2 linked regions of the Homo sapiens genome follow. The protein of the gene in region 2 interacts with the protein of the main gene of each other region in a pairwise test. Each region holds a gene or a part of one and is shown on either strand. Other genes may lie near its edges.

Region 1 (4,202 bases), on a different chromosome or scaffold from region 2:
AGTAAAACAATTCTAAACTTTGGTGGTTTAATAAAACATGCTTGCACACTAAACTCCCAGCAGCCAGTTTATAAGCTCTAGTTTAATGATCCGTGCAGAACTCTAAACTGCACTCAGACAGATGCAAAATCCTGTCTTTCAATGACACCACGTTGGAAATGATACTAGGCTGAGAAAACACCATTTAGGTGTTGGTAATGCCCACCCTGGGGAATGGGAATCTGGTGAAGCTGGCCCTCTGGGCAAGCCCCACTACCTGAGTGCAGGCTCATGTGCTCCAGCAGTGAGTGCTTGGTGGTCAGAGCCTTGCTGCACACGGTGCAGGTGTACGGCCGCTCGCCTGTGTGCATCCTGGTGTGGACCTGTAGCGAGTGCTTCTGGGCAAAGCCTTTTCCACACTCATTACATTTGAAAGGTCGCTCCCCTGGAAGAAGAGCCCCAGAAGCATGGTATAAGTAAGAATCCACACATTTTTCTGTCTCTCCCAAATTAAAAAAACAATAAAGGATTTTTCTTAAAAGGCACACATCCAAAAGGCCAACAATGAACACAAGAGACATCAGCAATAAAATTTTGGAAGCTGAACAGATGAATCTGAAGCCAGCAGTGAGTAGCACTAACATAACCTAATTTTTTGTTTTTCCTTTGTAACAGGGTCTCACTCTATCACCCAGGCTGGAGTGCAGTGGCGCTACCATAGCTGACTATAGCCTCAACCTCCTGGGAACAAATGATCTTCCCACTTCAGCCTCCTGAGTAGCTGGGATCACAGGCATGTGCCACCACTACACCCAGCTAATTTTTTAATTGTAATTTTAATTTTTTTTAGAGATGGGATCTCACTATGTTGCCCAGGCAGGTCTCCAACTCCTGGGCTCAAGCAATCTTCCTGCCTCGGCCTCCCAAATTGCTGGGAGTACAGGCATGAGCCACCACACCCAGCCCAATACAACCTAATTTTTAAGACACAATCTCCTAAGGCTCAGGAATTGGTGGCACCTGCTATCTCTGGAAACAGGGGTGAGGGAGGGTAAATGAAAGTCTGTTTCAAAGGTGCTTAGACCCCTGATCAAATCTTCCACTCTACACAGCCAGGAGACTGTCCCTCCCCCAAAAGAGAATGGAGAGTGTTCACTGAGGAGGGTTAAGAAAAAGGGGTCTTTGGATTAGGAGTTTCTAGGCACAGTTGAGTTGGGATCACCACAGGGAGAGTAAGTCAACATTTCCATCTGGGATGATGAGACTCCCCCACTCCTTCTTCCCCATCCTGTCCTAGACACAGGCCAGCAGCCAGGCCTAGTGCCTCCAAGTGGGAGAGCAGAAGCGTCTTCCAGTGGAACATGAGAGGTCCAAGGTGAGAGAGCAAAGATGTGGAAGCCAGGCACCAGTAAGGACATGGGGCACAGCCACACCACCTCCAGTGAGGTTATGACAGGCCTCCATACAACTGTTTCAGTACTGACTGAGTGGTTAAGTTAAACATTAAAAGCCAGTGCCCTTAAACAAAGGCTGGAATGTAACAAAAGCCCACCAAGAGTTTCCCCTAGGCTTCTCCTGGGCCTTAAAGCATGACAAAATAACGAAGGAATTCTTAACAGGGCCCACTTAGGATTAAACAAGTTTTACTGGGGATCTGAAGGAACTCCCCAAATCTCCGTGATTTAGCAGAAGATAAGGGTAATCACCCCAGCACCTAGACCCATTTAGATTAAGTAAACTTACTGAGGCTCCAGAAGAAGGTCTTTGGGACGCAGACCTTGGATATAGATTAAAAGAAGTTAATCACCTACGTCTTTAGAGGAATGCACACTTACAGACAGACATACAGCTTAGGCGGTATATAAGCTCTGAAAAATTCTGTAATTTTGAGTTGGTCTGGCGATAATTTCCAGGCCTTCTCCCTATAACTGGTTACAGAAATAAAAACTCTCTTCCTCTCCAATTCATCTGCATCTCATTATTGGGCCACGAGAAATAGCAGCCTGACTCTCAGTGTGATCTGGGAACAAGGTCACAGTTTTACAGACTCTCTCATACAAAAAAAATTAGCCAGGCATGGTGGTGCGTGCCTGTAATCCCAGCTACTTGGGTGGCTGAGGCAGGAGAATCACTTGAATCCAGGAGGCGGAGGTTGTGGTGATCGGAGATCACGCCATTGCACTCCAGCCTGGGCAACAGCCTAAGAAATAAATAAAATACAGGCTCTCTCCACACATGCAGCATTGCCAGTAGCTTTTAGCAACCCACCCTTACATATGATTTAAAAAAAAAACACCAGGCACTCAAGGAGAGCCTTTTGTAATAGTGACAGACAAACAAGCAAGAAGAAAAAAAAAAGCAACTTGCCTCCAGTGAGGAAAATGTTGTTATCATTAACATGCTCATAGAGGTAAGATAATACATTGTGAAATAAAAAGATCATTCAAATTAAAACATTTAGAAAAAAAAGAGCTCCTAAAGGGGGAAAAAAATAAGAGTTGAAACAGAAAACCTCAAAGGGCTGAAAAACAAAGTGGAAATCCCCCAGAGGGTGGGGCCAAAAATGATGGAAAATATAAGAGAAAATAAAGTTAGAGAGAACAGAGAAAACAGAGAGGAGAAATCATCTATGAAATAACTCAAGATTTTCCAGAACTGAAAGACAGTTTCCAAACCTTATGAATCTACCTGTTATCTACCCAGATGGAAGAAAACAGACCCATACTAAAGTGATGGGCTGCAAAATTCAGAATACAGATGCTTCCTGACTTATGATGGGACTACATCTAACAAACCCATCATACTGAAAATATCATAAGGAAAAATGCACTTATACAGAGTACTGTATGAATGCACCAAATGCAGAGTACTGGTCATTTACCCACGTGACTGTGTGGCCCGGCATGGCATGAGAGGATCATACTGAATATTACTAGACCGGGAAAAGATCAAAACTCAGAATTCAAAGTACAGTTTCTGTTGAACATGTACTGCTTTCACACTATTGTAAAGATGAATTGAACCATTGTGAGTCGGGGACTGTCTGTACTGAGGACATAAGGGAAGAACGATCCTACATGCTTTTTCTTAAGTCTTGTATAATGATTTAACTCTAAACTATGCACATAAAATTTTTGATAAAAATAGCCAGCTGGGCGCAGTGGCGCACGCCTGTAATCCCAGCACTTTGGGAGGCTGAGGCAGGCAGATCACGAGGTCAGGAGTTTGAGACCAGCCTGACCAACATGGTGAAACCCCGTCTCTACTAAAAATACAAAAAATTAGCTGGGCGTGGTGGCGTGTGCCTGTAATCCCAGCTACTCAGGAGGCTGAGGCAGGAGAATCACTTGAACTCGGGAGGCGGAGGTTGCGGTGAGCCGAGATCGCGCCACTGCACTCTAGCCTGGGTGACAGAGCGAGAATCCATCTCAAAAAAAAAAAAAAAAAAAAAAAAAAAGCTAAAATATAACCTATTACAGTTCAACAAATATTTCTCAAGTATCCACTTTGTTCGAAGTACCTGAATTCAAGCTCTTCAACCTATCTGTAGCTAAAGTCTTTAGGGAGCTTTTAAAAGCACCAAGGCTCCAGACAACTAAATCAGAAGCTCTGGGGTGGAGGTCTAGGCACTGGTAGTTTTAGAAGCTCCCTAAGTGATTCCAATTTGCAGGCTGAGAACCACAGCACCAGATACTGCTGGATCACAGGAGAAGACTTAAGCCCCAGTCCCTATACTTAAGATTACAATTAAGTTGAGGGATATACAAGTGGTAACAACAATCTGATCCAAAGCAGAGTGGGTTTTAAGCACCTGAAAGGGCTCAAAGGAGGAAGGGATTTCTCACTAGGACTGCAGTGTCCAATACGGTAGCCACTAGCCACATGTGGTTATTCAAATTTAAATGAATTAAAATAAAATTTAAAATTCAGTTTCTCAGTCACGCTAGCCACAGTTCAAGTGCTCAAAAACCACATGTGGTTACTGGCCACCATATTGGACATCAGAGATGTAGGAACATTTCCATCATCACAGAAGGGTCCCATTGGTCAGCGCTGGGCTAGAGGGACCAAAAATGAGAAGGTATTTAAAGCTAGATAGCTGAGTTACAAAGTGATCTACACAGACTTGGGCAAAAGCATGGTTATGGTCAAGATGAAGAATGTTCAAGAATCAGAAAGCAGGGTACATTGGGCTAGATCTTGATAAGTGGACATTAAAGGAT
Region 2 (4,202 bases):
TGACCCACCCTCCTTGGCCTCCCAAAGTGTTGGGACTATAGGAGTGAGCCACTGTGCCTGGCATTCCATTTTAAAACATGAGTTCTGGGATAAAAAAACAAGACCTAATTTTTGATAAGGTCAAAGCACAAGGAAAAAATGACAGGCCAATTCTCTGAACGGAATAATTATAATTTTTGTAAATGCCTGGGTAAAAATCTCAAGAAATATTTACTTTTATTAAAATGTCCCCATACCCCCCCACCACTTCCCACTATAATTTTTATCAGTTCTTCTGATCCCAGTTATTAATTTGTCTTTACCTTAAAAGATTTTAATTTATTAGTCTTTACCTTAAAGAAAAAAGTAAAATTACTGATATTCGATAAGATAAACATCTTCTAACAATCCTCTTCATCTAACTCTAATATTTCTAAAATCTTTTTAAAAAACCAACCTTCTTTAGTGAAAATAACCCACTGGAATCCAAAAATAAGTCACATGGTCTTGAGGCCAAAATCTACTCAAGAGAGTGCCAGCAAATGTGGAAGAATGAAAGAAGAGTCAGATGAGGGGGTAGGAAAAGGAACTATAAAAGATGGTTAAAGAGAAATCTGAAAAACCTCCACATCTTCTCAACTAGCATCCCCCTTTGTAGTTGAAGAACTTGACTGGTTTGAGAAAGTCAAAGCCCTTTGTGAGTAGCATTCTTTAAAGCACATCATAATTTGAAAAATGGAATCTCAGAAACAGGTCCTAAGACTGAGTTTGGATGTGGTCACTGGTATATCCCTTCCTTTCATGAAGAAGTCTAGAAAGCTAAAGCAAGATGGGTAAAATTAAAGTAAGAAAAAGCTTTGGAAGCAGAGATCTCACTTTGGAATTCCATGCAGTGTACATCTCAACATTTGTTCAAGTTATTTATGATTTATGTTAAATGCATAATATTTTCACTAGTTGTTATAATAAAAATTTTCCAGCCAGGCACAGTGGCTCATGCCTGTAATCCCAGCACTTCGAGAGGCTGAAGTGGGTGGATCACAAAGTCAAGAGATCAAGACCACCCTTGGCCAACATGGTGAAACCGTCTCTACTAAAAATACAAAACTTAGCTGGGCGTGGTGGCATGTGCCTGCAGTCCAGCTACTTGGGAGGCTGAGGCAGGAGAATCACTTGAACCCGGGAGGCGGAGGTTGCAGTGAGCCAAGATCACACCACTGCAGTCCAGCCTGGCGACAGAGTGAGACTCTGTCTCAAAAAAAAAAAAAAAAAAAAATTTCCTCACAGTCTTTAATACTGTAAGATGTTATAAAATACCTTTATTAGACATATGCATAGGCACAATTAAATTCCACCAAAACTGTAACTGCTAAAATCTATATAATCCTAAGTAACATATCTGAATGAATACATGTCTTACTGAAGGAAAAACTATTAAAACTGTGAAAACCACTAACCTTTCATAATATAAACATATAAAATACTTAACTGTTCTATTCTACAATATGCATCTAAAATGTCTTTACATCAGTCTTTTCTGTTGAAAATAACACATTGGAATTTGGGAAGAAAAAAAAAAAAAAGTTATGTGGCCAGGATAGAAAAACCTGACCAGAAGAATTGTAGCGAAAACCACAGGAATATTTCATATCACATAAAAGTACCAATTCAAAACTCACCACCCCTTGTATCCTAACTTAGAGAGATCATCAACAGAACCTATGAATAAAGATGTTTAAGTCTCCAATAGCCAATGTGAGGTCACTTGAAATAAAGGACAATTTACTAGTGGCATAAAATACATGCTTTGTACATCGATATATGTTCTCCTATTTTCTGATACATAAGCACACAAAATAACCATTTGATAGTCATTTTCTAGTATCCAACAAGACGTTGCAACTTAGTTTAAGAAAAAAACAAAAAAACCCTTACTACTCTAATTAGCTAAAAGCTACGTAACTACTTCATAACTATGATTATGTAAAAAGGAAGGTAACTATTGGAGACACTTTTTAAAAAATGAAGAAGGAAGCAGAGGAGTCTAGAAGGATAGGGACAGGAATTGCTTTACTTAGTACAATGGCTGTCTATAATACAAATTGCAGAAGCAAATGGAAGCAGTATTATTCTCCACAAACCTGTACAGCTGAAATTGGTTCCAAAAAGTTATAAAGCAGGGTAGACGACTTCTGTGGGAAAATCTACATGAAAGAGTAGCCAAAACTGAAAGTACGCTAGGTTAGGCTGGGAATTTAAGAGAAAGCAACAAATAAAGATGACTAAACAAACTGAATCATGGCCAAAGGTTACATATTGCCTTAGGTTTTTTCTTTTGTAAACAGTAAACAAGATAGGCATTTTAGAAATAGGCTGCCTTTGTACTATAAGACCATGCTCTAAGATGAAATCAGAAATATCTGAAATTAAGGCAAGTATCAAGATAATAAGGGGGAGAGTAGGTCCTGAAAGACATGAAGTGCCCCAGTAACAAAGACAAACAAAAAGTGTCTCTGTCTGATTAGGTTTCACAGCATTGTTTCCTACCTTTTTAGGTGAGAAAACCCCTAGGGTTCCTCCATCTTCCCGAATGGCAACTCCCATCTCAGCCAACAAAGCCTCTCTAGGAAAAAAACAGGTATATCAGAACACTAATACCAAAATGTCAATTAAATCAGTCTAATATGAATTGGAAAATAAAGCCTGCAAAGCAAAAACAACTGGCCATGTTTATAGCCAATAATGCAAACATAAAATAATGTGCTTATCTCATCATTAATGAGAAGTTATTTCTAAAAGCAACATCACATTCAAAATCAATGAAATCTTGCTTTGTTAAAGTTATATTCACTGAGATAAGAACTTTGTCTCAACTGACTTTGGGATAGTCAATAATTCATAAATGATATGCATATTAATATAAAAAAGAAAAGAAGAGGCTATTCCTTTTTTTTTTTTTTGAGACAGAGTCTTGCTGTCACCCAGGCTGCAGTGCAGTGGCACCATCTCGGCTCACTGCAAACTCTGCCTCCCAGGTTCACGCCATTCTCCTGCCTCAGCCTCCCGAGTAGCTGGGACTACAGGTGCCCACCACCATGCCCGGCTAATTTGTTTTGTATTTTTAGTAGAGATGGGGTTTCACCATGCTAGCCAGGATGGTCTCGATCTCCCGACCTCGTGATCTGCCCACCTCAGCCTCCCAAAGTGCTGGCATTACAGGCGTGAGCCACCGCGCCTGGCCAATATGTTCCATTTTTATGAATCCCTAGCAACATGTAATATGGTAACTAATAAACCTGTGACTCCCTAGATAATATTTAAATATGTAGATGTCATTTCAAAGCATAAATTCAACTGGCCATAAATCCCTGTCCATTTTTTTGGTTTCGTTTTGTGTTTTAGAAGGGCAGACTCTTTGATTTTAATTTATATTTTATCTTTTCTTACGATAAAGTAATCCACATCCCCTAGAAAACTTAGAAACATTTCCAGATTTTAACCTCCTGACCTCTCCATTCTGATGGCCTCTGTTTTACGAAGCTTCTCTTCCCAAGTTTCATTCAACTCAGCAATGATCTTCTCTGATTCCTAAGGAAGGAAGCGCACAGTTAAAGAGGCAAAGAGTCTTATAATTTAACATACCATGCTAGAAAAGCAAGAAGCAAATCATGCCCTTTGAGGATACAGGCCAGAATTAAATGTAAAGAGATTTTTCTTTTATTAATACATAAGATAAGAATCATAAAGATTAGACCTAAAACTAAATCAACCCCAAACAAATAAATCCTCCAAGTCTTTTTTTTTTTTGAGACGGAGTCTTCCTTTGTCACCAGGCTGCAGTGGCGCGATCTCAGATCACTGCAACCTCACCTCTGGGGATCAAGTGATTCTCCTGCCTCAGCCTCCCGAGCAGCTGGGACTACAGGCACGTGCCACCACGCCCAGTTAATTTTTGTATTTTTAGTAGAGACGGGGTTTCACCATGTTGGCCAGGATGGTCTCAAGCTCTTGACCTCGTGATCCACGTGGGCATGGTGGCAGGCGCCTGTAATCCCAGCTACTCAGGAGGCTGAGGAAGGAGAATGGCATGAACCCGGGAGGCAGAGCTTGCAGCGAGCCGAGATCGCGCCACTGCACTGCAGCCTGAGCAACAGAGCAAAACTCCATCTCAAAAAAAGAAAAAAAAGAATAAAGTTCCCAAACGTATTTACTGCTTTTGTTTC

What was found.
Region 1: the proteins of KIF1B (region 2) and ZBTB24 interact in binary tests that used the Homo sapiens proteins (3 or more experiments, as listed by UniProt).

The regions. Positions count from the first base shown.
Region 1 is NC_000006.12:109,476,507-109,480,708, forward strand, and holds part of ZBTB24 (zinc finger and BTB domain-containing protein 24), read right to left. Parts: intron 425-4,202; coding exon 257-424; intron 1-256. UniProt on the Homo sapiens protein: May be involved in BMP2-induced transcription.
Region 2 is NC_000001.11:10,290,447-10,294,648, reverse strand, and holds part of KIF1B (kinesin-like protein KIF1B), read right to left. Parts: intron 3,568-4,202; coding exon 3,488-3,567; intron 2,603-3,487; coding exon 2,527-2,602; intron 1-2,526. UniProt on the Homo sapiens protein: Has a plus-end-directed microtubule motor activity and functions as a motor for transport of vesicles and organelles along microtubules.